Homo sapiens: one gene and its partners. The protein of the gene in region 2 interacts with the protein of the main gene of each other region in a biochemical or structural test. Each region holds a gene or a part of one and is shown on either strand. Other genes may lie near its edges. The genes, in order: TOM1L1, TOLLIP, PEG10 and TLR4.

What was found.
Region 1: the proteins of TOLLIP (region 2) and TOM1L1 form a complex in vitro, tested with the Homo sapiens proteins (one study listed by BioGRID).
Region 3: the proteins of TOLLIP (region 2) and PEG10 form a complex in vitro, tested with the Homo sapiens proteins (one study listed by BioGRID).
Region 4: the proteins of TOLLIP (region 2) and TLR4 form a complex in vitro, tested with the Homo sapiens proteins (one study listed by BioGRID).

What each region holds. Positions count from the first base shown.
Region 1 is NC_000017.11:54,957,375-54,964,327, reverse strand, and holds the end of TOM1L1 (TOM1-like protein 1), read right to left. Parts: exon of another isoform or gene 3,763-6,953; coding exon 3,702-3,762; 3' UTR 3,701-3,701; exon of another isoform or gene 3,094-3,700; 3' UTR 3,064-3,093; coding exon of another isoform or gene 3,002-3,063; 3' UTR 2,372-3,001; downstream 1-2,371. Other genes in the region: COX11 (cytochrome c oxidase assembly protein COX11, mitochondrial), read left to right, coding at 897-1,022, 1,413-1,595. UniProt on the Homo sapiens protein: Probable adapter protein involved in signaling pathways. Interacts with the SH2 and SH3 domains of various signaling proteins when it is phosphorylated. May promote FYN activation, possibly by disrupting intramolecular SH3-dependent interactions.
Region 2 is NC_000011.10:1,283,116-1,290,963, forward strand, and holds part of TOLLIP (toll-interacting protein), read right to left. Parts: intron 7,295-7,848; coding exon 7,112-7,294; intron 6,205-7,111; exon of another isoform or gene 5,781-6,204; intron 5,662-5,780; coding exon 5,509-5,661; intron 2,978-5,508; coding exon 2,887-2,977; intron 483-2,886; coding exon of another isoform or gene 403-482; exon of another isoform or gene 1-402. UniProt on the Homo sapiens protein: Component of the signaling pathway of IL-1 and Toll-like receptors. Inhibits cell activation by microbial products. Recruits IRAK1 to the IL-1 receptor complex. Inhibits IRAK1 phosphorylation and kinase activity.
Region 3 is NC_000007.14:94,657,202-94,665,049, reverse strand, and holds part of PEG10 (retrotransposon-derived protein PEG10), read right to left. Parts: intron 1,717-7,848; coding exon 516-1,716; coding exon of another isoform or gene 1-515.
Region 4 is NC_000009.12:117,713,006-117,720,853, reverse strand, and holds part of TLR4 (toll-like receptor 4 isoform A precursor), read right to left. Parts: coding exon 6,206-7,848; 3' UTR 1-6,205.

The DNA of each region.
Region 1 (6,953 bases), on a different chromosome or scaffold from region 2:
TGGTTACAATGAGTAGTTTACTGGTTTATATCAAAAGTATCCCTGTCCTTCTAAAAGAAAACAAATTGAGGGCCTTTGAAATAATCAATAAGTAGTAAATAGTTATGTTATACTCCAGTGAGACTGAGACTATACCTAAACGCTTTCCTAAAATTTTAACCAACTGTAAGAAAGATTTTAACTGAAATCTCATTAATTGAGGATTAGCCAGAGTGAGTTAATTTCAACCCATATTGGAAAAGCCTTATAAATATTAGTGCTTGCCCAGTTTAGTAAACATGACTGAATCTCTTAATAAAGATTTTATAGGTTATGATTATGAATCTTCTCCAATTACGTGGTAGTATACAAAGGTATTAGTGGCTGAATTGGTACAAGTGACAGAATATCCTTTGGAAAATTTTTTTAAGCCTCGCTATTCCCTTATTTTCTCCAAAGTATTAACACTTTGTGGCATAATAAAGGTTCTAGTCAGTCAGTTTTATTCTGATTTTAAGGTAAGTTTAATGTTGGTATCTTTTTAAAAAAAATAGTCAATCATGACATTCAGGTATAAGTGTTACAGAAAAGTTGGGCTAGGGCTGTGATATGATTGGCTTGGACACATTTTAAATAATGTAATTTGCCGATTATTCCTTGAAGACCTCAAATATACAAGAGGACAGTTCATAACTAATTATGGATATTAGAACATTGGTTCTTCATTGACATATGCAAGTAAGTTTTTAAACTCAGATATGTTTATGGGTAATATTCACAATTTATTTTGCTGAACCCTACATTAGATTAGGTATTATGGTCTGATGAATAGGCAAAATAATGAGACTAATTTAGCAGGGAAAAGAGGAACTTTGTGAGATTCAAAGTATTGATAATATATATATTCTTTAAAACAGGTGGTGCCAGGAGAGACTGCACTGGCGTTTTACAGAGCTAAGAATCCTACTGACAAACCAGTAATTGGAATTTCTACATACAATATTGTTCCATTTGAAGCTGGACAGTATTTCAATAAAATACAGGTACATCAAAGTGTAAACTTTACAGAATATGATAAAGATACATGAAACGGTTTAGTATGAAACTTAGTGTTTTAGTAGATCTTGTGATTTCTGAAAACGAATTTCTTCTAAACATCAAGCTATTTTTCTTCACTATCTATACCTGCTATGCAGAGATTGAGAACCAAACCAAATGGATATCTGCTTTTAAGATTAGAATTTGTTCTTCATCCTTAAAGCAGAACTCATTGAGATGAAAAGATGCTCTTAATTTATCACAGAACTGTGTATTTAATAGTATGCTTATTAAAATCACGAAGTGTACTGGAATGCTAAGATAAAAGAACTGTATAGTTTCTGTTATGTAATACGAGAATAGAAATGTTATTAAAATCTTTCTATAATTTCCAGTGCTTCTGTTTTGAAGAACAAAGGCTTAATCCCCAAGAGGAAGTAGATATGCCAGTGTTTTTCTACATTGATCCTGAATTTGCTGAAGATCCAAGAATGATTAAAGTTGATCTTATCACTCTTTCTTACACTTTTTTTGAAGCAAAGGAAGGGCACAAGTTGCCAGTTCCAGGATATAATTGAAGTCAGCAACTAAGTCTTCCTTCAAAGTTGTGATTTTTGGGAAAATCATATATCCTATCTTCTCAAAGGAGAAATATTGTACAATAATATGAAGGCTTATATTTTAAATAATTATTTTTTCTCAACTAATTTTTTTCACTTAAACTTGAGAGAACAAGTTCAGCTTTTATCATAAGAAACTCATATGCCTAGCTAGAATATATGACTGACTATTCAATACCATACTGAAGAGTTTGATACTATTAAAATAAGCCGCTTTGTTTTTTAAATATGCAGGCATGGGTTCAGCTTAATTCCATAATTCCCTTCCAGATTATTAACTCTTCATACTTACAGCAATGAATCTGACAATGTTTTTCAAAAATGTATGCTCAGGGTTATTTGTTTCAAGTCATAGGCCAGAACTTCTAACCATGTTTATTGTGTCTAAAAGAGTTGGTTGCTATTTTCCTTCATTATGAATAGTCAGTATTTTAAAAGCTCAAAGTAGAAGAGGAGTCACTAAGCCCTAACAGCTTGTCCAAAGATTTAAATTCTTATTTCAAATTTGATTTGTCCTTTAAGGTTTAGGGCTATTTTATATTCAGAGTTCTGAATAATTACTTTGAAACTGTAGTATCATAAAATTGAAATAAAATACATCTACTAGGCTGTTAGCCAAAGCATCACCATTACAAGTCCATGAATGTTAAAATGTACAGGTGGGATTGTGAAGATTTACTGACATCAAAAGTTCTTCTGGAAACAAACCTTTGTTAAAAAAAAAAAGTATTAAATTGTTTTAATAGTGATTTATTTGTCATCAAATGTACAACTTATTCTAAATATTTTCATTTTCTGTGTTCTAAATAGAAATATTAAGTTGCAGTAAAAAGAGAAAAAAAGGCTATTTAGCATTACAAAGAATCATATTTAAAGGCTGCCCAATGTAGAGTCTAGTGACCTGTTCAGGACACCTGAAATATAATTAAATGACAATTATCAAGGTTTTAACAATTTATAATTCTAAACCAGAGGATTATAAAGAAGTGCAAATTGACTTTTACATTCAACTTTAGTTAAATGAAGGCACTCAGTATTCTTCCTGAATAATACATTCAGTTTCTCACATTTTATGCTTTCATCTATTCAGAATTATTTCATAGTAAAATAATCTACTCTTATCACAGCTGTGTGACGATTTCTAAATGTAGGAAGGCCTGTGAAACATGACACTGCAGTTAAATTGGTTGGCCTAAGGACTAAGTAATTTTTCTTCTGCTGAAGTTTTAAGTGAGTATTTGTTCCAAACAAGTTCTGTTGAAATCTCACGCTGTTGTCAGGAATCAGTGTTATCCTGGAACTGTTATTCTATTTAATCTTCATTATAGCAGAAATGTGCCACCATGGCTTTGACATGTTGGTAGGTATTGTCTTCCAGGCTTCAAAGCTGCACAGAGTCTACGTTTTAGAGAGTTGGCACCTTTGATGTGGTAGTGAGCTGATCATCCACTTTCTTCTAAAATAAAGAGAAGAAAATGGCCAGTATTCATCCTGTCCTTCTCTTTCCCCATTCCTTGATAACTCTCTTGTCTTTACTGGGAAGCTGGAGAGTCACAGTCTAGTAGAAGAAAGGTAAGAATGTGCTTCTTCCATAGGGGAGGGTATAAGGGGAATAAATAAGTTTTGATAGTTCATTGGTGACCATTAAATAGTAAATACATGGGATTAGTAGTGCTGAAAATAGGAAAAATTCAGACCTATTTGGAGGACTAACGGTAAATGGGTCTACTGGTACCGGTTAACAAGTATTAACTGCATATGAAAAACAAATGCCTGATTTCAGTGCTACTCCTATTGCTCATCTATTTTGTTAGCATTAATATTTCTATACCATAAACTACTGTATTCCCAAGCCTTACTATTTACAGATGAGAAAATCACAAAGAATGACTCTCATTAGTGAACAATGGTTCAGCACAATTTGAATGATTCAGGGGAACTCATATTTCAAAGTGTCAGACTCAGATGGCCCTTAGAAAATTTAAATACTAAATATGTAAAGTGATAATTATACTGAAATTATATGGAATATGGAATTAAGTTGTATAAGTTGAAGTCTTTACCTCAGTCACCATCATTTTGAGCTCCTTTGTGCTGGTGAGCATCAATTTCTTCATAAATAGCTCTGAAACAAAGCCATCACAGCAAAAGGGTTATGTATCAATTTCAAAGTGCTATTTTGGTTTTTAACTGCCAGCACTGTAATTAAAAATTGAGCTGGTTTTGGAGTTCAGGCTACATATGAGTAAAAATAAGTCTCTGCCCTGAAGTGTGTATTCTAGTTTATTTAAATTCTAATGTTGCACTTCATTTTTTCTTTTTTTTTGAGACAGAGTCTCACTCTTTTGTCCAGGCTGGAGTGCAATGGTGCTTTCTTGGCTCACTGCAACCTCTGCCTCCCAGGTTCAAGTGATTCTCCTGCCTCAGCCCCACGAGTAGCTGGGATTACAGGGACACACAACCATGCCCAGCTAATTTTTTTGTATTTTAAGTAGAGACAGGGTTTCACCCTGTTGGCCAGGCTGGTTTCAAACTCCTGACCTCAGGTGATCCACCCGCCTCGGCCTCCCAAAGTGCTGGGATTACAGGTGTGAGCCACCACACCCGGCCTTATTGTTGCAATTCCTATGTCTCTTAAAAGTATGTATTTCATAGAACCAATTAATTTTTTCTTGTGATTGAAATGAGAAATATGACTCAAATTTGGACAGTTTATGTTTTGCTTAAAAAACTCCTCAGTTTCTTCTGGTTTCAAACTTTTTAAAAAAATATTAGGACAAGTGCAGTGGCTCACACCTATAATCCCAGCACTCTGGGAGGCTGAGGTGGGTGGATCGCTTGAGTCCAGGATTTCAAGACCAGTATGAACAACATGGCAAAATACCATCTCTACAAAAAACATAAAAATTATCATGTGTGGTGGTACACACCTGTAGTCCCAGGTACTCAGGAAGCTGAGGTCGGAGGATCACTGGAGCCTAGGAGGCGGAGATTGCAGTGAGCTGAGATCGTGCCACTGCACTCCAGCCTGGGCTACAGAGCAAGACTTTCGTCTCAAAAAAAAAAAAAAAAAATTAATCTTCCAGCTTATTTAAACTATGTGATTACAGTCCAGACTCCTCAGCCATCTATAGCTCATCACTGTCATTTCTGTACTTTTTTTATATTGTATTTTTTCAATGACATCCTTCATTCGTTTTTCTTTTTTCTTTTTTTTGAGACAGGGTCACTGTCACCCAGGCTGGAGTGCAGTGGTGCAATCATGGCTTATTGCAGCTTCGACCTCCCAGGTTCAAGTGATCCTTCCACTTCAGCCTCTCAAAATGTTGGGATTAGAGGCATAAGCCACCATGCCAGGCCCATTCAATTCTTTATATGCGTCTTACATATGTCTGTAGCTGGAAAATATACCTGAAAGCACAACATTCATATATACAGTATAGCAAAACATGGCTGAGGAAAAATCTCAAAAATCACAGCGCTATGAAACCATGATCACCAAGTTCATAAGGCCCCAGAATGGTGCTACAATTTTAATGTTTCCCTAAAAAGTTTGGTCTCATCTCCCTCAAAACGATTTCAGTCTTCTTCACTCTCCTCAAACCTCTAAACTCTCTGGTAGAAACTGCATTCTTAATACATTAAATGTCTTGATATGGAAACTTCCTCATTTTCCCATCACTAAATCTTCAAGTTTATCTTCATTTGTATTGTCCATTATTTCTGTGATCCTGTCTATTCCTGGCTTCTGAAGCACTTGACCCATTCAGTTATTCTTCCCTTCCTGAGTCTTCAACCTCTCCTTCTATGCCAGATCCTATTCTTCAACATTCACAGATTCTCCAGCATCTCCCATGTCTCCCATTTTATACAAAGTACAGCCTTTAATTCCATCTCTTCTTGTAGTAAATGCCTTAGTATCCTCTAGCTACCAACAACCCCTTTTTTTTTTTTTTTTTTGAGATGGAGTTTCACTCTTGTTGCCCACGCTAGAGTGCAATAGTGGGATCTCAGCTCACTGCAGCCTCTACCTCCTGGGTTCAAACGATTCTCCTATTCATCCTCCCGAATAGTTGGAATTACAGACACCCGCTACCACGCCTGGCTAATTTTTGTATTTTTAGTAGAGACAGGGTTTTGCCATGTTGGCCAGGCTGGTCTCAAACTCCTGACTTCAGGCGATCCGCCTGCCTTGGCCTCTCAAAGTGCTGGGATTATAGGCGTGAGCCACCGTGCCCGGCCCCAAACCTGTTTTCATCACTGCTTCATATTTAAGTTCTAAGAAGTTATCTGTACTTACTGTCTCTACTTAATCTCTCATGTGCTTTTCAAATGCACTGAAATTTGGGTTCTGTCTTCATCAGTCCATCAAAGTAGCTTTTACTAAAATCATCAATGATCTCCAATCCATTATCTAGTTTTCAGTTCTTATCTTACTTGTCTGCCCCTGGCACTGTTCTTCACAGTTGTACTCGCTCCTTTTTGCTTCCAAATTACATTTTCCTCATCTGGTACTGAGCTCCCTGTTAACTTTCTTTACTCTTGGTTTTAGCATTTCCATTTCCTTGAATGTGCCAGAGCTCTGTCCTCTGGGTCTTTGTACAGGTTGTTCCTTGGGCCTACAATACTCATTTCCAAACTTTTCACTTAACTAAGAATTGCAGGCCTCAGCATTAATGCTACCTGAAGCTTTCTCTAATCCTCATTTAAATTAGTTCTGTTACAAACTTTCAAGTTGCCATATTCTTTCATAACATTAACACAAATTTTGTAAACATGTATTTGGTGGTTTGTCTAATTTCTGTATCCATACTACGTTTAACCTCTGTGAGGACAAGGGAGCATGTTTCTTGTTCAGAATTATAAATTAGTCCAGTCATAGTCCCTGGCACATAATATTGAAATTAGTGAATCGTGTGTATCTTCATAAACATACTGTTTGTCCTGGTAGAGCAAAAATTGTCAACCTGGGATTCATGGACAACCAATGATGTGAAAAAAACCCAGTAATTTCCTGCAAGATTCTGTGCTTTTCCTTGGAGGGAAGTCCCTGAATTTCATGGGACTTTCAAAAGAACTGAGACATTCTGACCCCCAGAAAGAAAGACCCACCACAGTGATAAAAGAGTTCCAAAGCTTCACCTCCAGCTTTTTACTGTCTCTCCCACCGCCAGTATCTGTGACACTGCCGTATCAACATACAGCAATCTCCTAATTTGAATATAATCAAGAACTTTTCCACTACCTGTTTGGATGGAGAAACTGATTAAAAAAACGTTTCTAGAAAGCATACCTAGTTAAGTGCCAGTGTCTTAA
Region 2 (7,848 bases):
AGTCACACCACTAGCCCTGCACTGGGTAAACCTGCGCTGGGTGGAATCTGCGGTGGTGGCATCTGCCTGGGTAAAATGCGGGGGCCCTGCCAGCAGCCCCGGGGAAACTCAGCCCTACCCTGCAAGGCCACGTCAGCAGCCCCACCAGGTCCCTGACCAGAACATACCCTAGGAGCAAGATGGGGACCCCTCCAGGCCAAGGGAGGCAAGGCCATGGAGGGCCAGTGACCCCGGCCTGGATGCTGCGGACTCAGACGGGCTCCAAGCAGGGTACAGCCCCAACGCGTCAGTGTCAGCTTCATCTAGATGGCCGTACTGTGCCAGGGACGCCCCTGCTTATTGGAAACGCATGCCTGGGCATGGGGGCTGGGGGCTCCGGTGGGGCGTCAGGTGGACGAGTCCTCACAGGCTCTGGCAGATGTTCCTGCATCTCCTTGGGAACTTTTCTATGAAGTGCGGGGCTGTTCCAAAATTTACAATGTCTATCAAAAGAAAATTTCAAAGTTTGTCTAGCCTTTCCTAAAATAAACGTTTTAGAGCAAACTTGAAAGGCATCTACAAAGAGAATTAGGGATAGGAACCAGAAAGAGGTAAGCCAATCAATGTTATCTGTCATCTGAATGCTCTTTCAGCCAGATACACCCTGGCGCTGTATCCAGTTGATGGAACTGCACCCCCCAAAAAGACAGCCACAGAGCGCCCGGCCCAGAAGTTGGAGGAGACGGGGAGGATCCTCCTCACAGCCTTGACGAGTGAGTGGCCCTGCCTACGGGGCTTCGACTTCCAGCCTCAGGAAGCTGGAGGGCCTGGGTCTCTGTTCTTTCAGGTTGGCCATTGGCCTCCAACTCAGGACAACCAGACAGAACTTCACTAGCCCCATGAACTGCACATCACAGAAGGCACTTTGACCCCACGACGGCGGCTCTGGGCTGTCCCAGTTACAAATCAGAACCTCCAGGAGCCACTCTGGGGGGCAGCCAGGGCGCATCAGGGCCCCCAGGGCAGCAGAGCTCCCCTGGCCAGGCTCCAGGCTCAGGAACAGCTGTGGGGCTCCCATGCTCGCCCCCGTTTCTCTGCCAAGGTGCTGGCTCTTCCACTTACCCAGATGCCCACCCTCCTCTAACTCTGAACGCCTCAAGGCTGCTTCTGCGTTTCTGGCTCACCTGTGGTCACCTCCTAGGAAGCATTCTTTCCTCGGTGACGGGGTGCAGGTGCTACCTCTGCTGGGCTGGTGGTTTTCTTTTTTTTTTTGAGATGGAGTCTTGCTCTGTCACCCAGGCTGGAGTGCAGTGGCGCAATCTCGGCTCACTGCAAGCTCCACCTCCTGGGTTCACACCATTCTCCTGCCTCAGCCTCCCGAGCAGCTGGGACTACAGGCGCCCACCACCGCGCCCGGCTAATTTGTTTGTATTTTTAGTAGAGACGGGGTTTCACCGTGTTGGCCAGGATGGTCTTGATCTCCTGACCTCACGATCTGCCCGCCTTGGCCTCCCAAGGTGCCGGGATTAGAGGCATGAGCCCCCACACCCACCCCCAGGCTGGTGGTTTTCTAAGACACTGGACACCACAGAGGCCCTCTCAGACACACGCTCTGCTCTTTCCTCTGGAGAAAGGCAGCCCTGGCACCTGCGCGGGCGGCTTCACATGGAAACAGAGTCTATAATGTGAGCAAGTGAGGGCGAGGCCATGCTGTTCTCACAGGCAGTTTTGTCCGAGAATGTCCTGAACACCAGTGGACAGCCCAGAGTCTCCCAGTGCCGTCTCCTCCTTCCCATCGTCAGGGCTGGGTTTCAGGCCACATCAGGTGGGTCTAGGGCGAGGTCCCGACTCCCAAGGTGGCCTTTCTGCATCTGTGCAGGATGCTGGCAGGACTGGGGTGCTGACCAGGCCTCTCCACTCCAGCTGGGCTGGACACCAGCACTGGCCTCACAGCACTCTCGCCTGCCAGCAGCTCTGTCCCGCCCCAACCCCAAAGCAGCCCCTGAGCACAAGCAGCCGGGGCCTCATGCAGCCCCGAGACCCTCCCCTAACACCACCTCCCCCAACACCACCACGCATCCCTAGCGCCCTGCCCGCAACTTGGCCACTTCCATGGCCTGGGCCTCTGGCCTCCACCCTCCGTGCAGAGGGACCAGTGCTCTGCCTGGACACCAGCTCCCCAGAACGAGAGAGGCCACCTCAGCAGGAGAACCAGGGTGACCACAGGCTCCCCCCTAGCACCTCCTCTCAGGGGCTGCGGTCTCCCCGCCTGCTAAAGACGGCTGGGCCCATCCATGGTGGGGGCCGGTCTTGCACCAGCAGCTACCACAGTCACAGCTGGACCGAAAATGCAACAGCATGAAAAGCGACATCCCAGCTTGGTGTTGCTGCAGCCACAGGCTGCTCACTCCTAACAGTGACACACGACAACAGACGCAACAGCGCAGTAGAGAGCACGCATCACCCAACAGGAGCGTGAGGTTCAGACACAACGGCGCAGCGCAGGGCACGCGTCACCCAATGGGCGTGAGGTTCGGACACGACGGCACAGTGCAGAGCACGTGTCACCTGACAGGGGCGTGAGGTTCTCCTGCACAGAGCTGGGCACAACGGGGTTTCAAAGCCACATTTCCACATCTCTGAAAATTTCAACTCACCTCATTTCTGCCAACAATTAGAAAAAAAAAAAAAAAACAATTCTATTTTCTAGATATGCAAACAAAATTCAAACGTAAGCCTTGGCTTCCTGGCCTGAAAGGATCTGTGTGCGGTCAGCACGTCTACAGGATTCTAGAATGGATGACGTCCCCACCCCGGCGCTCTAAGCCCCGTTCCCTCCTCCCGCACCTGCCCTAGGCCCTGGGGTTTCTACCAGGGGAGAGGCACCCAGGGAGGGAGCACACGCACCTGTGATGGGCACATAGCCAACGCCCTGCTGGTACACTGTTGGCATCAGGACCACGGGCTGGGGTGGCATCACCATGGCAGCTGGAAGCAGCTGAAACACAGCGGAGATGGTCCCGGGGTCAAGGAGGAACATCCACCCATCAGAACCTCGGGAATCGCCCTCCCCACAATTGCCCTCCCCACGCCAGCCCAGAATCGCCCTCCCCATGCCAGCCCAGAATCACCCTCGCTACACGAGCCCTGAGTGCACAGGGGACGCTGGGCCCTGCTCCCACCCCTGCACCACCTCCTCAAATCCAGGAGGTGACATGGCTCGGGCTTACAGACCCCCTTCTAACTGGGATGTGACTGAGAGAGGATGGTGACAGGAGGGACATCCCAGTGTAGGTGTCGAGTCGGCCTGGGGGGAACCACACTGCACTGCTGTGGTGTCTGAGTTTGAAAGTGTCAACTTCACATAAGTCACTGCACTGCTGTCAACTCTGAGTTCAAAACTGTCCACTGTGGATAAGTCACTGCACCACTGTCACCTCTGAGTTCAAAACTGTCAACTGCGGATAAGTCACTGCACCGCTGTCGTCTCTGAGTTTAGTTCAAAACTGTCCACTGCGGATAAGTCACTGCACTGCTGTCTCCTGAGTTCAAAACTGTCAACTGTGGATAAGTCACTGCACCGCTGTCATCTCTAAGTTTAGTTCAAAACTGTCCACTGTGGATAAGTCACTGCACTGCTGTCTCCTGAGTTCAAAACTGTCCACTGCGGATAAGTCATTGCACTGCTGTTGTCTCTGAGTTCAAAACTGTCAACCGTGGATAAGTCACTGCACTGCTGTCGTCTCTGAGTTTAGTTCAAAACTGTCCACTGCAGATAAGTCACTGCACTGCTGTCTCCTGAGTTCAAAACTGTCCACTGCGGATAAGTCACTGCACTGCTGTTGTCTCTGAGTTCAAAACTGTCAACTGTGGATAAGTCACTGCACCGCGGTTGTCTCTGAGTTCGAAACTGTCAGCTGCGGATAAGTCACTGCACCACTGTCGCCTCTGAGTTCAAAACTGTCAGCTGCGGATAAGTCACTGCACCGCTGCCGTCTCTGAGTTCAAAACTGTCAGCTGTGGATAAGTCACTGCACCGCTGTCTTCTGAGTTCGAAACTGTCAACTGCGGATAAGTCACTGCACCACTGTCGTCTCTGAGTTCGAAACTGTCAACTGCAGGTAAAATCACTGGAGCGTCATGATGGTTCTGTGTTTGTATGAAAGCGTCTGTTAAAGACGTGTCATGAGACATTTACACATCGTCACTCACGGCCGGGACATGATTTAAAATATCCCAGCTTTAACAAAAAGGGGGTGGGAGGAGCCAAGATGGCCCAGAAAAGCAGCTCCCTGCTGCTGCCTCCCCGCCGCAGCCTCCCCGCCGCACCCTCCCCGCCGCAGCCTCCCCGCCGCACCCTCCCCGCCGCAGCCTCCCCGCCGCACCCTCCCCGCCGCACCCTCCCCGCCGCAGCCTCCCCGCCGCAGCCTCCCCGCCGCAGCCTCACCGCCGCAGCCTCCCCGCCGCAGCCTCCCCGCCGCACCCTCCCCGCCGCAGCCTCCCCGCCGCACCCTCCCCGCCGCAGCCTCCCCGCCGCAGCCTCCCCGCCGCACCCTCCCCGCCGCAGCCTCCCCGCCGCACCCTCCCCGCCGCAGCCTCCCCGCCGCAGCCTCCCCGCTGCACCCTCTCTGCCGCAGCCTCCCCGCCGCAGCCTCCCCGCCGCACCCTCCCCGCCGCAGCCTCCCCGCCGCACCCTCCCTGCCGCAGCCTCCCCGCCGCAGCCTCCCCGCCGCACCCTCCCCGCCGCAGCCTCCCTGCCGCACCCTCTCTGCTGCAGCCTCCCTGCTGCACCCTCCCTGCTGCACCCTCTCTGCTGCACCCTCTCTGCTGTCACATCTGCCTGGCATTTCCCACAGCACCATTTTTCAGTAACAGCCTGAAAATCCTCTGGTTGATGATACAGACGAGACGGCAGGAGCTCTGCGTCTTGGAGCCTCTAACTGGCCCTCCTGATGCCCCCAGGAGCTGCAGGTGCCCTGAGAATGGAGATGGCTGGGAGCCAGGGCGCTGACGTGCTGGCCCCACAGCCAGGCCTCGACTTCCTGACCCTGAGCACAGCAGCCCCCAGGCTTCCCCGACATCTCCAGAGATGCCCTGCCACACCACGGCCAATGCCTGCCCTGTGGGGAGGAGCCTGGTGTCCTGCAGGGCCCAGGGCTGTATCTCAGACCCTGGAGGGCTGCTCAGCTGGACCCTAAGGGCAGAGCTTGGAAGGGCTGTGGGGGTCCTCCGAGGACACAGGGGCCTGCAGTGGAGACCACCACAAAGGGTTGGCTCATCTTAGGAACACAAACAACCCCTATGCTGTTTCCCCAGACAGAGAACATGGGCAGGAGCAGTGGGCAGGGCAGCCCCTCTCTGCCACCAAACCACCCAGGGCCCCTGCCCTCTGTCCTCAGAACGTGAGCCCTGCTGTTTTATGGGCTCAGTGCCTCCAGGAAAGAGACAAGGGTGTCTGTGGGGCGGCATAGCCCCGACGTGCTCCAACATACCCCAATGCGCCCCACCCCGCCCAGGCGTGCAGCTCACCGCGTAGGACATGACGAGGTTGATCATGCCCTCCTTGTCGTCCCCCTGCCTCCCGCTCAGGCTGTACCACTTGTCCTCCACCTTGCCCTGCCTCAGGGACTCCGGGATGGTGATGTGGGTCCAGGCAATGCGGTCGTCCATGGAGAAGGCTCTCTGCGGGAGACAAGAGGGAGAGGCCCCAGGCATCAGGGAAGGGGCCACCCTGCCCCTGCAGCCGCACCATCGTGGGCCCGCCTCGAGTCCCCGTCTTATCTGTGGAACAGGGCTCCCACCTGCACCAACACCCCATCGATGAGACCCCTCGGGCAGCGCAGGCTTCACGATCGTATATCAGCCTCCGTAGGGGACTTCTTCCCTCTCTCCACCAGGATGGGCCAGGGCCAGGGCCAGGGCCAGGTCTGGGGCTGGGGAAAGCGAGGGCCCTGGGCTGCTGTCCTCCTTCAGTTCCACTTCAGGGACACTGGCTGCTCCTCCCCAGCCCTCGGGGCCCCATCCTTGCTCCACCGGCTGCCACCTGTCAAGCCCCAGAGCAGCCGGGGTGCAGACTGGAAAGGACACGGGGTCTGCCTCCCACAGCTGACTCTGCACTTCCCATGCGCTCTCTACTCTTCTGAGGGCCAGGGAGGGGAAAGCAGGTAGGGACGGGGAGAGAAAAGCCGGGAGGAAAAGGCAGGGCCCAGGCAGGGAGGGCTGGCCGTCTGCTGGCCTGGCTGCCCCACACTGCTCCCCGGCCCCCACCCAGTCTCTAGCCTCACAATGCCACAGGTGCGAGGTGCCAGGACCACACTGAGCAGCAGCCTCGCCACATCCCCTCTGACCTTCTGACTCTGCCTCAGAAGCGCTGCAGGTGCAGCCACGGACGGGACTCAGGACCCTCAAGGGTCACGACCATTCGCACCACCAAGAACAGCTTTCCCACCCAGTAGGCAGCCGCACTCTCTGGAAATCCCACCTGCTGGTGAGCGGCCGGACCCTGTGCGCCCAGCGGGGCGGACACATGCACGCTCTGTCCCTGGAAATCCCACCTGCTGGTGAGCGGCCAGACGAGTGCCCAGTGGACACGTGCACACTCTGTCCCTGGAAATCCCACCTGCTGGTGTGCGGCAAGACCCTGTGCGCCCAGCGGGGCGGACACATGCATGCTCTGTCCCTGGAAATCCCACCTGCTGGTGAGCGGCCAGACGAGTGCCCAGTGGCGGGGGACACATGCATGCTCTGTCCCTGGAAATCCCACCTGCTGGTGAGCGGCCAGATCAGTGCCCAGCGGAGGGGACACGTGCACGCTCTGTCCCTGGAAATCCCACCTGCTGGTGAGCGGCCAGACCCTGTGCGCCCAGCGGAGGGGACACGTGCACGCTGTATCCCTGGGTCATGCTTGTCACTGGGGATGTTTCCAAATGTAAGTATGTTCAAGGAGCTGGAAACAATCCCTTTTTCACATTCCTTGGGGAGAGCAGGACCCTGTCATGCACCCAATGAAACACCAGGTGGGGAGCCACGCCTCGAAGCCAGCCAGGAACGTGGCTGTGTTGGCAGGTGTGTCCCCACGGCAGCCACGCTCAGCCACGTGCAGCCTCCATAATAGCTGGCACGTCCCTCTCACCTCATCGAAGATCTCGAGATAGAAAGAGTCCACGCCTGGGGGCACCGTGCAGTGGATGACCTTATTCCAGCGGGGATTCTTGGCGCCATTGTGTGCCGTGGGCGTCTCGTACACCGCGTAGCCCAGGCGCAGTCGGCAGTAGGGGTCCATGCGGGTCATGCCGTAATTCTTGGCCAACTTTGCCTGGAATGAAGCCAATGTCAGGAAAAGGAGGTGCCAACCATCAGGAGAGGGTGGGTTCTCTAGGCCGTCTGCCTCCCTGAACCCTTCCACGAGGCCTTTTCCTAACACATAGACTACAGCCACTCAGAGTCGCCTGAACACGGCTGTGACCTGCTTCCCAGGAGGCCAGGAGCAAGAAGAGTGAGCCACAGATGGATCGTGCAGTTCTGAGACAAAGCACGTGGCTCGTCCTTGACAGCAGAAACCTACGACGCTCACAGACACAGCTGAGGCCGCCACTCACCCACCATGAAGGGCGCACTCTCTAATGCCCTCCTCAGAAGTGGCTGAGGAGGGAAAGAGGAGGAGGTCCCGGGACAGAGCTGAGAGCCAGAGCATGACATGGAGTGTGAACCTGCCCCCGGAGCATGATGACCCGGGAGAGGTGCATCCTCGCTCTAGGTGAGAGTGAGGACACCTGCTGCACATAATTCAGACGCCACGTGGCTGCTTTCCTCCCTCGTGAAGGCAGCAGCCCTGCCTGTGCTATCGGAGTACGTGGGGTTTTGGGGACT
Region 3 (7,848 bases), on a different chromosome or scaffold from region 2:
ATCTACTGGATAATAGAGTGGCGGTTGTGGTGCTGGTGGTGGGAGCGATGGTGGTATTGGAGAATACATCCGGCAGTGGTAGCGGCAGTATTCAGAATCAAAGACGATAGATCGAGTGCTCCATGTGATATTGGGATCATGTGTGCTCAGCCAGCGAACCCCTAGGACGACAGGGAAGAATGGAGACTGAGTCACATCAAATGACAGCACCTCTCGGTGATCTCCCAGGTCAACTATCAGGTCGTGAGTTTCGTGGACAACTGGGCCCGATGCTATGGGGCGCCCATCAATTGCTTCCACAAGTATTGGCCAGTCCTTGATTCTTAGAGGAATTCCATTTTGAGCAACATATTCGTGATCAATGAAGTTGCCAGAAGCACCAGAATCGATCATGGCTCGGACGAACAGGGTGTGTCTGCCCGGAAGATGAATCTGGAGCATCACTTGCAAGTGTGGAGATGAGGCATCATCTTGTGGGGACCTTATTATTTCTGGCCCGGTCGCTGAAGGTCCCTCTACAGCGGGGCCGGGGAGTTTCCCGCCGGCGAAGACTTTGAGGCCTTGGCAGGACAATTGTCAGCGTAGTGACCTCCTGTTCCACAGTAGAGGCACAGGTTCAGCTTTCTGCGTCTTTCTTTTTCTTCCTGCGTCAGGCGCATGCGGGCACCTCCCACCGGCTCGGTTGGATCTACCTGGTGGTGGCTTGCAATGTGAGGCAACACCAGCGCCCGGGGTGGCGAGCGTGGCTTGCGAGCTGCAGCAGCCCTGGCCAGCCTTCTCTCAATGTGAATGCACTGCCCAATCAGAGCAGACAGCGACTTGGCGACCTCGAGGTGGGAGAGCTCCTCCTGAATGTGGTCGCTGAGGCCCTCGTGGTACTGGTCAATCAGCGCAGGCTCGTTCCAATCCAGGTCCTGGGCAATCATCTGGAAAGCATTGGAGTAGTCGATGACAGACCCCATGCCTTGGCGCAGGCGTCTGATCTTGCGTTTGGCAACCTCTCGCCTCTGAGGGTCTTCAAAGACATGCTTCATTTCCATCATGAAAGCTGGGTAGTTGTGCATCAGGTAGTGGGAGCGCTCCAGCTTTGCTGAGGCCCAACGGGCAGCACGGCCGGTCATCATGCTTGTCACGAAGCAGACACGGACACGATCAACTGAGAAATCCCTGGTGCTCTTTTCCATGAAGATCTGGCACTGGGCCATGAAAGGAGCCAGCATGTCTGGGTTGCCATCGAACTTCTCTGGGAGGTCTTCTGGGCACTCTTCCTCTATTGGAGGGGGTGGGGCAGCAGCTGCTGCAGCACCGCGGAGCTCGATGTCATCATCCTCATCCTCAGGGGTGGGTTCCACTTGCTCTCGAAGGGTGGTGTTCTCCTCTGTGAGCTTCTGCACCTGGCTCTGCAGGTTGTTGTTCTCCTCCGACTGCTTCATGACCTTCTCTCTTAAGTTGTTGATCTCTTCAGAGAGCTCGTCCCTTCTTCGTTCGGTCATGTTGGGGACACACGCACTCTTATGGCCGGTGTGCTTGGAGTTGTTGTTGTTGTTGTTGTTGGGGGGAGGGGGAGGAGGAGGAGGTGGGCAGTCGGGACCCAGGGTGACGGTTGGGGTGGGAGGAGACCTCCCAGCTGTAGCTTCACTTCTGTGGGGATGGAGGCCTGGATCCTGGCCCCCTCTTCCACTCCTTCTTTTTTTTGTTTTCAAAACCCGCTTATTTCTGTAAATAAAGATAAATGTATGTATAAATCCAACTTATACATTCAAAGCAGCAAAAGCAGACACAAAGGATTTGGTATTTAAATTATCCCTTGCTCTACGTGCTTACATTAATAATTAGTGAACAAAGAAAATAAACTCTCAAGAGAAAGTTAGTAATCAGCACCATATATAACAAAAAGCAAAGTACTTTTTGATGTTCAAATGACCTTGTCTTCCTCAAAGGCCACCTGTTCATTATGATTCAACAATACATTATCAACAGCATGCTTACCTTTATAAACTATAAAAGAATGTTGAAACCCTCTAAACAAGTAGTTTTGTATTCAAACACAGCAAGAAACTTCAAGGCAAACATGGATACAAAATCAATTATGCAAATTAAAGCCAAAATAATAACTTTTGTTATTAAAGAAGCCAGGCCAAAAATAGTTAATACTGCAACTAATAGAATCTCATTAAAGCAAGAAGGGAGTATTAAAATCACAATGCATGTATTCATCAGCCCTGTGGGCAGGAGGGTACTCTGGCCAACTGTCACAACCCTATTCCACTGCCACCGAGAAGGTAACTGGTTATCAAATCAAACAACCACCACCACAAAAACCACAGGACTGCCTAAATTACTTTTCTGACCATAATTTAAATCCCCAAAGAAAATTCTCTATGGGACAGAAATGGCACTAAGCAGCAATATGTGTATGTCAGTTTCCTTTGTCATTATGCAGTCATTCAAGAAATAATAATTGATGCCTCCTAGGAAAAGCTATAAAATGGGACATTCAAAGAAGCCCAATAATAGTATACCTCAAACTAATTATGAGGACTTAATTAAATAGTGCAGGTAAATTATGTAGTGAGTATTCAACAATGGTTAGCTGATATGAACAAAGTTATTAATTAGAAAATAGAAAGGTGACTATCTGTGTAAAAAGAGTGGGATTAAAAGAGGGAGGGGCTGCAACTATAGCAACATGGGCATGCATTTCCCACCTAAAGACATTTACTTTTTTAAAAATACTGTGTTGGTCAAACAAATTCAAGGCCTTATTTGTCTTGCAGTTTACCAGTTTGTAATCCATAGTTTTTAATGAAGATTTGTCAGCATAGCCCCAAATGAAGGTTTGTAATGTTAAGGTGGGACAGGGCTGCACTCCTAGGGGGTGAGTGGATGTGTGTGGGGAGGTGGGGGTAGGGTGTGTGTTTAAGCATTCTAATTATGAGTGTAATGACAATCACACACATAAAAATCCTGACACAGTGTCTGCCTGTGTACTTCCTGAAAATACAGTTAAATGCATTTAGAATGATTTAATTATTTTAAATTTTATTAATAATCTCAAGTCCCATATTTGGAAAATTTAAATATATAAAAAGTTTAAAACATAATATGTAAAAGTTTAAAAAAGTTTAAAAAACTTTGATTTAAAAAGTTTAAAACTTTTAAAGAAAGTTTATAAAACTTTTAAATAAACAAAAGTTTAAATACATAAGTTGGTCCTCTCTGGATACTCACTATGTGATTTACCTGCAAAAATGGACGCCAAATAAATTACATAGAATAAGGCCAAAAAGATACACAGTTGGTAATTAGAGAAGTTAGGTGAAAAATAGTTACTATTTTCAACCAATAGAGTACAAGAAAAAAAAAAAGTGGTAATTAAACATGATGCCCAGCCCCTGGCTGTAAAGAAATGCTCCTTCCTCTCCAACTCCTAAACTCTTTAGGTACCTCCCATGCCCCAATGTCACCACCCACAGATACTATCCCTGTGTCCTTTGCAGTTGGTGTAGCCTCTCCAAGGAGTGGCTATACAGCAAGCAGGGTCTTTAAGAGACAGGGAGTAGTGTGACATTTTAACAGTTTTAACCCCACTACTTAATTACTTTAGTAACTTAGGCTATAAAAACAACAAATAATTGACATTCAAGATAAAATATTCAAGTTTAGAAAAAATTAGAAAACACAATAAACACATCATAACCCGTGACATTCAGTATCATTTCCAACTCCTTAAAGACAATTGTATTGCTGACCCTGACAATATAACATCACAACATAATGCAATTTTTCCTTATTAAATTAGGAGTTTTCATGTCCCATTAATGAACAACTAATAACCATAAGTAAGGTGACTAAGGTACCACTTTTGTCATCTAGACATTAATATCTTCAAAACCTTGAGACAAGACTTCCTAAAGAGCATTCACAGCATGGCCTGGTGCAGCCTGACCACTTGTCAATCACGGCCACTAAGTGGGGCTTTATTGAAGCCCAGGTCTGATGGTTTTATTATCTGCAAAAAACAGTGATGGGACAGAAATAACAATACATTAGGAAATCAGCAAATAATTACTACATGGTTTAGGGAAATAAAAGATCAATAAGAGTTAAAAATTCAAATACCTTTGGTATATAAGGAAGGTAGTTGAAAAGTGAAAAGAGACCAGAGTTAAGATGGGAGGGGCTGCAACAATGGAACTTGGGGGTGCATGCCCTCCCCCTTACCACCCTCCCCACCCCTGCCCCCCTGCCACCAGACATTTCATTCTTTTTTATTTTTTAATTTAGTTCCTGGTCAAACAAATTCAAGGCCTACTTTAGCCTGCAAGGTCACTAGCTTAAGACTTCTGACCTTTGCCAATAACAAGCCTGAGGCCTTCATATGAGGGTTGGCAAGTTTAGGGTGGGACGTTAAAAGAGACAACTGCCCAGGGAACAGTAGTTTATCCATTAAAAGTAATAGGGTAATGGGCAGGCAGGTTAACAGTGCGTATAAAAATGTTTAAACAGCGACTGAGGCAGCACAAGTTAACCTGGGACAAGAAGCATGTTTACTTGATTTGAATTATAGAACTATGTATGGCTCCTTAAACTCCCCCTTAGTAGGGGCTGCATTGGAGGGGAGGGGTCAAGAGGTCTCATTCCTGAAAACTGAAAGGACAAACTGCATAAAGCCAAGTTGCCTAGGACAGATGCCATCTTTACATGATAATAATTTCAGTTTTAGTCTTTTTAGGAAATAAATACATTTGGTTAATTATTGACTCTTCACAATAGCTTGGAATAATTTCTATTCCACAAACACACCAAAGAGCAATAGTAGCCAAAAACCATAAATGAACATCCTGTTAGGAAATGACATCTCATTAAGCAACTCTTAGTTGCTTCATATTTTCAAATGTCCAATTTTTTAGTACTATCTTGTACTATTTATGAAATGCAAATTCTCTTAATATGCATGTTATTACTGTTGTTTTGAACCTCTTCAATATGCAAATATACAATATCCAAAGAGAAGGGAAAATTACTTAAAGCTGTAATTATGATAAGCACAAATTTTCCATAGATTGTGTACTTGTGGTGGGGAGGGGGTATGTGACAGAGATTTTTGGGAGCCAAAGCCCCCAATTCCTCCCCTACCAAAGTCCTGGCTCATGATTTGTAATATATGGAACCAGGTTTTAAAATTTCTTCATTCAGCTGGAAACACAATTCTTACATGGTACCTCTTACTAGCAATCAGTTATAAATTTGTTTTATACAGTTGTTTAATTTTGCAAGCTGAAACAACCTATATTTTGTAATGTGGCCACTTTATATTACATTACACAAACTTTAATACAATATGTACCATTAATAATACACTTGCCCCAAATTTAAATTAGCTTTTTATGAAAAAAGCTAATTATTTGGAATAACTAGCTTTTTATGAAAAAAGCTAATTATTTGGAATAACTAGCTTTTTATGAAAAAAGCTAATTATTTGGAATAACTAGCTTTTTATGAAAAAAGCTAATTATTTGGAATAACTAGCTTTTTATGAAAAAAGCTAATTATTTGGAATAACTAGCTTTTTATGAAAAAAGCTAATTATTTGGAATAACTAGCTTTTCATGAAAAAAGCTAATATTTGGAATAACTAGCTTTTTATGAAAAAAGCTAATTATTTGGAATAATTAAAATTAATTTAGTTGCTTTGTATTATAATTACAGCTTATATCATTGGAGTTTAAAAACACATACACTTTTTTTTTATTCTGTTAAATGTGAGAGATAACGCAAACAAGGCAACCCAGGACAGCAAAGCACCATAGGAAAGGAGCAAATCAGAAGAGACCTACAGACACCAAGCAAGACACTGAATAAACCAATTTACTCTGGTCATTTAACACATATTTAATGAATGCCTACCATGTGCAGGCACAATTTATTATACATAGGCAAATAGGCTAGGGTTAATCACCTAGAGATTCAAGGAAAACACCCAGCTTCATAGGCACGCAAATAAAAGCCTTATCCTCACTCAGAGGCCAAACCAACAGCACCAATTTTGTATCCACCAAAACATCCGATTCCCAAAGGTCCACTAGTGCCTCTAAAAAAACCTTAAATGTGAAAATATTTTTAAAGTTTTTAAAAATAAATTGTTAAGTTTTGGTTTTCATTTGCAGTAAAAACATTTGGCTAAATTGCCTTTAGAGGCACCAGCCATGTCAGTTTACAAGGTCCCTTCATAAGCCACTATCAGGAGTTTAAATTGTGGGATTATGTTATTGAATATATGCAAAGAACATATTAAAAGTGCTCATAAATTCCAGTTATAATTATTATTGTTAATTGTTTTATTTATTATTCTATTAGACTCTAGTAGCCAAAAAGCAAAACCAACACAGCAGAGAAACCGCAGGGGGGCGGGGCTGTACAGCCAGGGCTCAGGCAAGGAAGGTGCGCAGGTGCAGAGGACCGGCGCCTGAAGGGAGGGGCTGAGGGTTCACACTGCGCATGTGTGCTAGCCGGCTCTGAGGGAGGTGGGACTATAGGCCAGCCCGGCAGAGGCAGGCTTAGGGAGGGGCCAAGCCTTGGAGAGGCGGGGCCTGAGCAGGCTACCTAAGAGGAGGCGGGCCTGGGGAGGTGGGATCTGGGTGAGCTCACATCAGAGGAGGCGGGCCCAGGAGAGGCGGGGCCTGGGCAGTTCACCTCAGAGGAGGCGGGCCCAGGAGAGGCGGGGCCTGGGCAGTTCACCTCAGAGGAGGCGGGCCCAGGAGAGGTGGGGTCTGGGCAGTTCACCTCAGAGGAGGCGGGCCCAGGAGAGGCGGGGCCTGGGCAGTTCACCTCAGAGGAGGCGGGCCCAGGAGAGGTGGGGCCTGGGCAGTTCACCTCAGAGGGGGCGGCCCCGGGAGAGGCGGGGCCTGGACAGTTCACCTCAGAGTAGGTGGGCCCGGGAGAGGCAGGGCCTGGGCAGCTCACCACAGAAAAGGCGGGCCTGGAAGAGGCGGGGCCTGAGCAGCTCACCTCAGAATGAGGTGGCCAGAGAGAGGTGGGGCCTGGGCAGGCAGGCGCTAAGGAGCTGGGAGGAGGGGCCTGAGGAGGCCGCATCTAGAAGGCGCGCTCTGGGAAGGCGCGCTGCAGGGGAGGCGCGCTCTGAGGAGGCGCTGTAGGAGGAGGCGCTAAGCACCGCAGAGAAGGCACACTAGGATGGGCGGGGCAGGCCTGAGACTGGCTGCTACAGGGCTGCAGAGTATCTGCACACCCCCCCCCCCCGCCGCCAGAATCCCCCCTCCCAAACCCCTCCCACCAGTCACCAAAGCCAGATTCATTTCATGCAGCAAGAGCAATCCACAGATCCAATTCCCCCGCCATACTCAGCAAACCCACAGTTTCCACAAACTGTTGCTGGACGCTGATTCGCGCCACCACAACTACACCGCCACTTCAATCAAGCACAAGTAGGCAGGCAGCCTGCTCTGCCATCACCAAAAGATTCCCATTTCCACTCCAATCAGTGCCCCTCCACTCCACTGCTATAGCGGGAATGGTGTGGGCAGAATGTTAAACACTAATTTTTGCCCGGGGCTCCATTTTGTCTACCAGCACCATCATGCGAGAACCGTCCTGCAGAAAAATAGAGTGGGAGCCATTCCAAAAGGTGAAAGGGTGGGGTCCTGCTCCAAGAAAACAGAGGAATTGTACTCCGCAGCTCATGTCCCACTACGGCTGCTTTATTTGTAGCGCAAACGGTCTGCAGCTCCTGTACCTCTGCAGCTCTTACCACTTTGTAGTGCATCTTAGGTGTGAATTGTTCCGCAGCTCATGTACCTCTGCAGTTCATGTGCCTCGCAGCGCAATGAA
Region 4 (7,848 bases), on a different chromosome or scaffold from region 2:
CATGCACTAGCATCTCACGGCCGAGCCCTAGGAAGACGGAGGGGCAAGGTCCTGGGGTGGCTGTGGATAGAGTCAGGCTGGGTTATTTCAGGTCAGTCCTGCCTTGCTTGGCCCATGGGAAATGGGGTGTTGTTAGTATGAGTCAAGAGCTCAAATTGGTAACTGGCTGGTTTTGATTTAATTACATAGTGAGATAGTTTCCTAGGAGCATACAACACAATCCTTTCTCCTAAACGTGAGTTTAATTTTCAACAAAACACTTCTCTCATAAACATCACGTCATTTCTAAACCTTTATTGCCATTCCCAGAACTGCTTGCAGCCTTTCAGAAACCCATTATTTTATAATTATAATCAAGACTATTAGGACAGGACAATTTGTGCCAAAAAGCGCATTTACACTCAGAATTGTCACTTAGCACTGTCACAGGAGGGATCATCTTTATTTCTGTAGAAATCAAGGAGAGTTGCAGACTCTGCCTTTTAAACTTTTAATTTCTAGATGGCATGGGAGTTACTGACCTTGTCTAAATTATTCTCCATTCACTCCACTAACCACCCCTGGCAGAGTAGCCCAGGACATCACAGCAAGCAATTATGTTATGGAAAGAATGCAGCCCCAAGAATCAGGCCAACCCAAGTTCATATCCTGATTCTGCTCCTTCCTATTGAACAATTCAGTCCTTTCATCTGTTTCTTCATCTGTGGAATGGCAAAGCTACAAATACCTGCATCAGAAGGTCATTTTAACAATTAAATGAAATAATATACAACTAAAACGGTGCCAGACATGCACCAAAAGCTTAGCAACTTAAAAAAAATACAGAAGGTGCGGCAAATGTTATTGTGATTAATATAAGCTGTGTGACCTAAGGCAAGTTACTCGTCCTCTCTGGGCATCTCTTTTCTCATTTCTAAAATGAGAAGAGTAGCCTTTAACTCACAAGGTAGCAGTAACGATCAGATGATCACGCATGGTGCTCAATATAGTTGGTTCCTTTTGATCGACCATTTACTCCACAGATTTTACTTTGAGTTGAAAAGTTCGGTGATCTCCATAAGGGCAGCCAGAGTGTGTGATCTTATTCCAACCATCTGGAAAGTCCTAAGCTTTTGGAACTTCCCCCATAACCTCTGTGTTTAATCACAAGTCTGTGATGCCCGTCAGGAAGTCAGACCAACTGTAGACATGATAGAGCAACCCTAGGCATGTTGTTCAAAGAAAGGCCATCATCTAGTGGGCCTGATTTGTTCACTGTTAAAAAATCTTTGATCACATAACTTAGATCACATTTTTCCTGGCTCTTACAGCTGTAATATAAATAAAAACAAGTAATAATAATAATACTTCTCTTTGTTTAATATCAGTCAAAATTATAATGGTGAGATAGGAAGTTTTATGCATTTTGTGAGAGCAGGGTGCTCTTGCCATAGAACAGTATTTAGAAGCCCTGCTTCTGCGGTGAAGTGGACTTAGATCCTAATCTCAGTGCTGCCACCAATGAGCAGGTGACAGTGGACACATGACAGAATGACTCCCAGACTCAGACTCCTCATTTGTAAATTGGAAATACTTTCGTATCTTTCTAATTCATTGATGTGACAAACTGAGATAGCACAAATAAAGCCCTTGCATAAAACAATTGATCAATTAAATGTAACTATTGTAACTATCAACATTATCATTTTAACCAAGTGAGGTCTGCCAACAAGGTATTATTACCTCCATTTCATGAATTAAGACCTGAGCCTCAAAGCACTTGAATGACTTGCCCACAATCACACAAGTAAATGGAGACACTGGCTTAGACTTTGGTTTTCACTCTCCCAGGGAGTTCACTGTCACATATTGTGTGAGTTCATTTAAGCTTCTCCAGGAGCCTGCTGATGATTTCTAAAAAGTTTATAGAGTCCAGAAGAAGACTGGGGTCTGACAATCCCGTGAGTAGAGAATGAATCAGAAAGAAATGTCTAATTTTAGTTACAGTCACTTCTGTGGTTCCACAGGCTGGAAAAATAGCAATTACTTTAGTGTTGTTACTGAGAAGACCTCCCAGTGCTTCTCCTAGTGCCCTCTTAATAAAGTCTTAGGGGAGTACTCACCCATAAGGACAGTGTCCCCGTATTGAACATAATACATGATTTTCAATCCTTAGAGCAACCTTACAAAGTCATAGTTCTATTCTTATTTTACATTGGAGCTAAGTAGACTCTCAGAGAAATGGAGCCCAAGGCACACAGTTGATAAGGAGTGAATTTGAGTTTTGGCTTTCTCCAAAAGCCACGCTACTCAAAACACCAGAAAAATGGAAAGCACTGTATTAACGCTCATTCTCGGTGTCTTTCTCTCCTCTTTTTATTCTATGTCCAGATTTTCTACTTATTATTGATTAACCCTATTGTTCACATATCCTTTGTTTGAAGCTCCTTCAAGTCCTTTATGGAAAGATAGGGTTATAAATAAATCATTTGGTATGTATAACATATATGCATATGTATTGGCTTAATGATTCATGGCTTCAACTGAGAAACCCTTGCTAGTGTCAACCACACAGAAAACTGCAGGAGTTTCACTTCCTGTTTTGCCAACTTTAAGCATGAAGCAATTGGGTGTGGAAGAAAGAAAGTGTCCTTGAGTGACCTGGAGGCCCAGGCTCAGGTTTTGTCACTTTCCTACTCTGTGGGCTATTGAAAAATTTACTTCATTGAACTTCAGCTTTCCCATCAATAAAATGGAAAAAGTTAATTATGATTTGCTACCTTACTCAGCTAATGAGATATTCAAATATATAGTTTTGTGAATATGTTTCAAGTTGTAAGGTATCACACAAATTTAAGGCATTACAATTGGCATTAATTTATCCTTATTCCACCCTTTATCCCTCTTAAATCCAGAGGATTTAAAGAGCTAAAAAGAGGCTGGCTGAGGCCTGACTTTACTCTTTCTTCTCCTTCTGTTCTATGCATATAATTTCTTTCCCTGCTTGTCCACCTCACCTGCCATTTCTAGAATTTCCATCTGGGAGAGGGAACTGATAGGAAGGAGGCCAATGTCAGCCTTGAATATTTCGGCCTTGAAATATTCCAAGTTGTATGTTGATCTTCCTTCTCAGAGCCTTGTACATTTGCTTGAATAAACACACTTATGCAGAATTCATATTCAAATATGAATAGAACCACACTTACATGTAGCACGGATATACACAAAATCATACATTTTCAAGCATACTAAGAAACTGAGGCATACATCTGTAGATAAACAATCATGTATGTATGTTAGTTCCTCACTTATCCACAGTTTCACTTTCCCAGGTTTCATGGTCAGTTATGGTCTGAAAATAGGTGAGTACAGTACAGTAAGATATTTTGAGAGAGAGAAAGAAAGAGATCACATTCACATAACTTTTATTACAATATATTATTATAACTATTCAATTTTATTGTTAGTTATTGTTAATCTCTTACTGTGCCTAATTCAGAAGATGAACTTTATCTTAGGTATTTATGTATAGGAAAAAATATTGCATATATGAGGTTTGGTACCATCTGCGGTCTCAGAGATCCACTTGGGGTCTAAGAACGTATCCACCAAGCATAAGGGATAAGGGGAGACTACTGTACAAGCACAAGAGTAGAGAACTCATCTCAAACAGCCATAGACATCCATTTCAAATGGATGTATTCTTCAAGAAATATAATCACACTCTCTTCTATACAGATATGATCATGCGGACACACACACTTTCAAATACACACAGCCCTGATAGGGATACATAGGGATATGTGCACAAATGCACACATCTACTTTCACTAGTACATGAGACATGGAAACACACCCAGGGATGTTCAATCACCCTAGACCTGCTCAAACCAAACACACTCTGAAACACTCAGTAACAAACACTTCTGACTGTGGTCATATTTCCAGTTTTGACAACTGAATTTTGTTGTCTTTTCTTTTTTATAGCTTCATTCAGACATAATTGATATTATAAAACTGCATATATTTAATGTATACAATTTGATGAGTTTAGACATAGTCACATACCTGTCAAACCATCACCACAATCAAGGTAATAAATATATCCATCACCTCCAAAAGCTTCCTTGTGTATATGTATATGGTAAGAACACTTAACATGAGAGGTACCCTCTTAACAAAATGTTAAGTGCATAATACAGTATTGTTCATTATACGAACTCTGCTATACAGCTGATCTTTAGAGCTAATTCATCTTGCATACTATAATTTTATACCAATTAGACAACTCCCTATTTCCTCATTTCTCCCTTCCTCCTTTTCCCTAGGAACCACTGTTCTATTCTCTGCTTCTATGAGTTTGACTATTTTAGAACCTCATATAAATGAAATCAGGCAGTATTTGTCTTTCTGTTACTTGCTCATTTTACATAGCATAATGGCCTCCGGGTTTATTCATGTTGTCATAAATAACAGGATTCCCCCTTTTTTTAGGCTGAATAATATCCCATTGTACGTATATGCACATTTTCTTTGTCCATTTATTTTTCAATGGAAATTTGGGTTGTTTCCATAACTTTGGAAACAGTGATTGTGAAGAGTGCCACAATGAACATGGGAGTGTAAATATTTTCTTGAAATTCTGATTTCAATTATTTTGGGTATATATACAGAAGTGAGATTGCTGGATCATATAGCAGTTCTATTTTTAATTTTTGAGAAACCTCCGTACTGTTTTTCATAACGGCTACACCATTTTCCATTCCCTCCAGCAGTGAAGAAGGGTTCCAATTTCTCTATATCCTTGATGACACTTCATTTTTTTATAGTAGCCATTCTACCTGGTATAAGGTGATATCTCATTGTGGTTTTTATTTTCATTTCCCTGATGACATCCTGATTGTCCTTTTCTTGAATGTTCTGTTTCTGAGGAGGCTGGATGAACATTCTTTTCTGGGAACCTTCTTTATAAGAACCCCATTAATTCCAGACACATTGTTTTCTCAATGATAACATCCACTCTTCCCAAAATGTGGTCAAGGAGCATTGCCCAACAGGAAACAGCAATGTATACTCCCTGCCTTGAATACCTTCACACGTAGTTCTCCTGGCAGTGAGAAGGGTACAGGGGAGGGATCCCAGCCATCTGTGTCTCCCTAAAGAGATTCAGAGGTCCATCAAACATCACTTGTTCTGAAAAAAATAAACTTCTGCTGCAACTCATTTCATGAGGTCACCCCGGGTTTATCAGCCCATATGTTTCTGGAATCAAGAAAAGGTGACCTCCTGAGGTCATCCCACTTCCTTCCTGCCTCTAGCCCAAATTGTCCATGATAAGACCAGGAAGCGGAAATTTTCTTCCCGTTTAAAAGAGTGCCCCCTTTAAACAAATTATTTCAATGCTGCTTTCATGACAGTCATTACTTAGTAGGCAATAACTTTGGAATGACATCGAGTGACAAAGTGACAGAGTGTACTTTTCCATACTTCCTTGAAAAATAGTGGTTAATATGGATATTTGAAGCACGTCTTAAACAACCTTATTTATGATATTAGCTTATAGGCAAGACGTAAAAAAATGAAAACTGGATATATAAAAATAAAAATATATCAGGGGTGATTAGTTAAAAAATAGAACATGCTCGAGAATGACCAGGATGGTTGTGAGCATGTGTTAATCAGGTTTCCTTAGGAATTAGCCACTAGACTTTAACCTCTGTAAGGAGACAGACTTAAAATGGAAGGGGCATCTTGCATCAGGAGCCCCTTGACGACTGCAGTCATCAAGTAGAATTTAAATTGTATTCAATCAAAAAGGAAAAAGTGAACACCCAGTTCAGTCAAAACTACCAAAATGGTTTTATGATGGCTATAACATAATACAATTTCCATTCAAAAGACTCAGGAAAAGAACAATGTCTCTTTCTGTTTTCTCTGTCTTTATTCAACTTGATGAGGTAAGAGTTGAAATGACTTTCTTTGTCATGGGTTCCTTGACTGAGTTGGTTGAAATGCCCACCTGGAAGACTCTGTATTTTAGTCTAGCATTTATTCCCTCTGCACTGGAAGCTCCTTGAGATTAGCAGCCCTGCATATCTAGTGCACCATGGAATTACTCACCCTTAGCATAAGGCCTGACATGTGGCAGCATTTAATACTTATTAACTGAACAAGTGTTGGACCCAGCTGGGCAAGAAATGCCTCAGGAGGTTTTTATTTTTCCTCTTCAGATAGATGTTGCTTCCTGCCAATTGCATCCTGTACCCACTGTTCCTTCTGGATTCCATGATTTACCATCCAGCAGGGCTTTTCTGAGTCGTCTCCAGAAGATGTGCCGCCCCAGGACACTGTCCTCCCACTCCAGGTAAGTGTTCCTGCTGAGAAGGCGGTACAGCTCCACCTGCTGCCTGAGCAGGGTCTTCTCCACCTTCTGCAGGACAATGAAGATGATACCAGCACGACTGCTCAGAAACTGCCAGGTCTGAGCAATCTCATATTCAAAGATACACCAGCGGCTCTGGATGAAGTGCTGGGACACCACAACAATCACCTTTCGGCTTTTATGGAAACCTTCATGGATGATGTTGGCAGCAATGGCCACACCGGGAATAAAGTCTCTGTAGTGAAGGCAGAGCTGAAATGGAGGCACCCCTTCTTCTAAATTCTTTACTAGCTCATTCCTTACCCAGTCCTCATCCTGGCTTGAGTAGATAACAAAGGCATCATAGATGTTTTCACCTCTACCATACTTTATGCAGCCAGCAAGAAGCATCAGGTGAAAATAGAACTTATAGACCAGAACTGCTACAACAGATACTACAAGCACACTGAGGACCGACACACCAATGATGGTCTTATTCATCTGACAGGTGATATTCAAACTCAGCACAGGCATGCCCTGCTTATCTGAAGGTGTTGCACATTCCATTCGTTCAACTTCCACCAAGAGCTGCCTCTGGTCCTTGATCCATTGCAGGAAACTCTGGTGTTCACAAGTACAAGCAAAGTCATTCTGAGTAAGATTTAAGAAAGCTAGACTACTTGGAAAATGCTGTAGTTCCTGTTTTTTGGAAGTCATTATGTGATTGAGACTGTAATCAAGAACCTGGAGGGAGTTCAGACACTTATAAGGAAACGTATCCAATGAAAAGAAGTTGTTGTGGCTCATATTTAGTACCTGAAGACTGGAGAGTGAGTTAAATGCTGTTGGAGACAACTGCTCCAGTTGACACTGAGAGAGGTCCAGGAAGGTCAAGTTTCTCAGCTCTGTGAAGATATCTGGAAGGAAGTTTTCCTGGAAAGAATTGCCAGCCATTTTCAAGACTTCGAGACTGGACAAGCCATTGAAGATGCCATTGAAAGCAACTCTGGTGTGAGTATGAGAAATGTCAAGGTAAATGAGGTTTCTGAGTGATAGGAATACTGAAAACTCACTCATTTGTTTCAAATTGGAATGCTGGAAATCCAGATGTTCTAGTTGTTCTAAGCCCAAGAAGTTTGAACTCATGGTAATAACACCATTGAAGCTCAGATCTAAATACTTTAGGCTGGTTGTCCCAAAATCACTTTGAGAACAGCAACCTTTGAAACTCAAGCCATTTCTACTGAGATCTAGAAACTCAAGGCTTGGTAGATCAACTTCTGAAAAAGCATTCCCACCTTTGTTGGAAGTGAAAGTAAGCCTTTTGAGAGATTTGAGTTTCAATGTGGGAAACTGTCCAAATTTACAGTTAACTAATTCTAAATGTTGCCATCCGAAATTATAAGAAAAGTCTTTTACCCTTTCAATAGTCACACTCACCAGGGAAAATGAAGAAACATTTGTCAAACAATTAAATAAGTCAATAATATCATCGAGGTAGTAGTCTA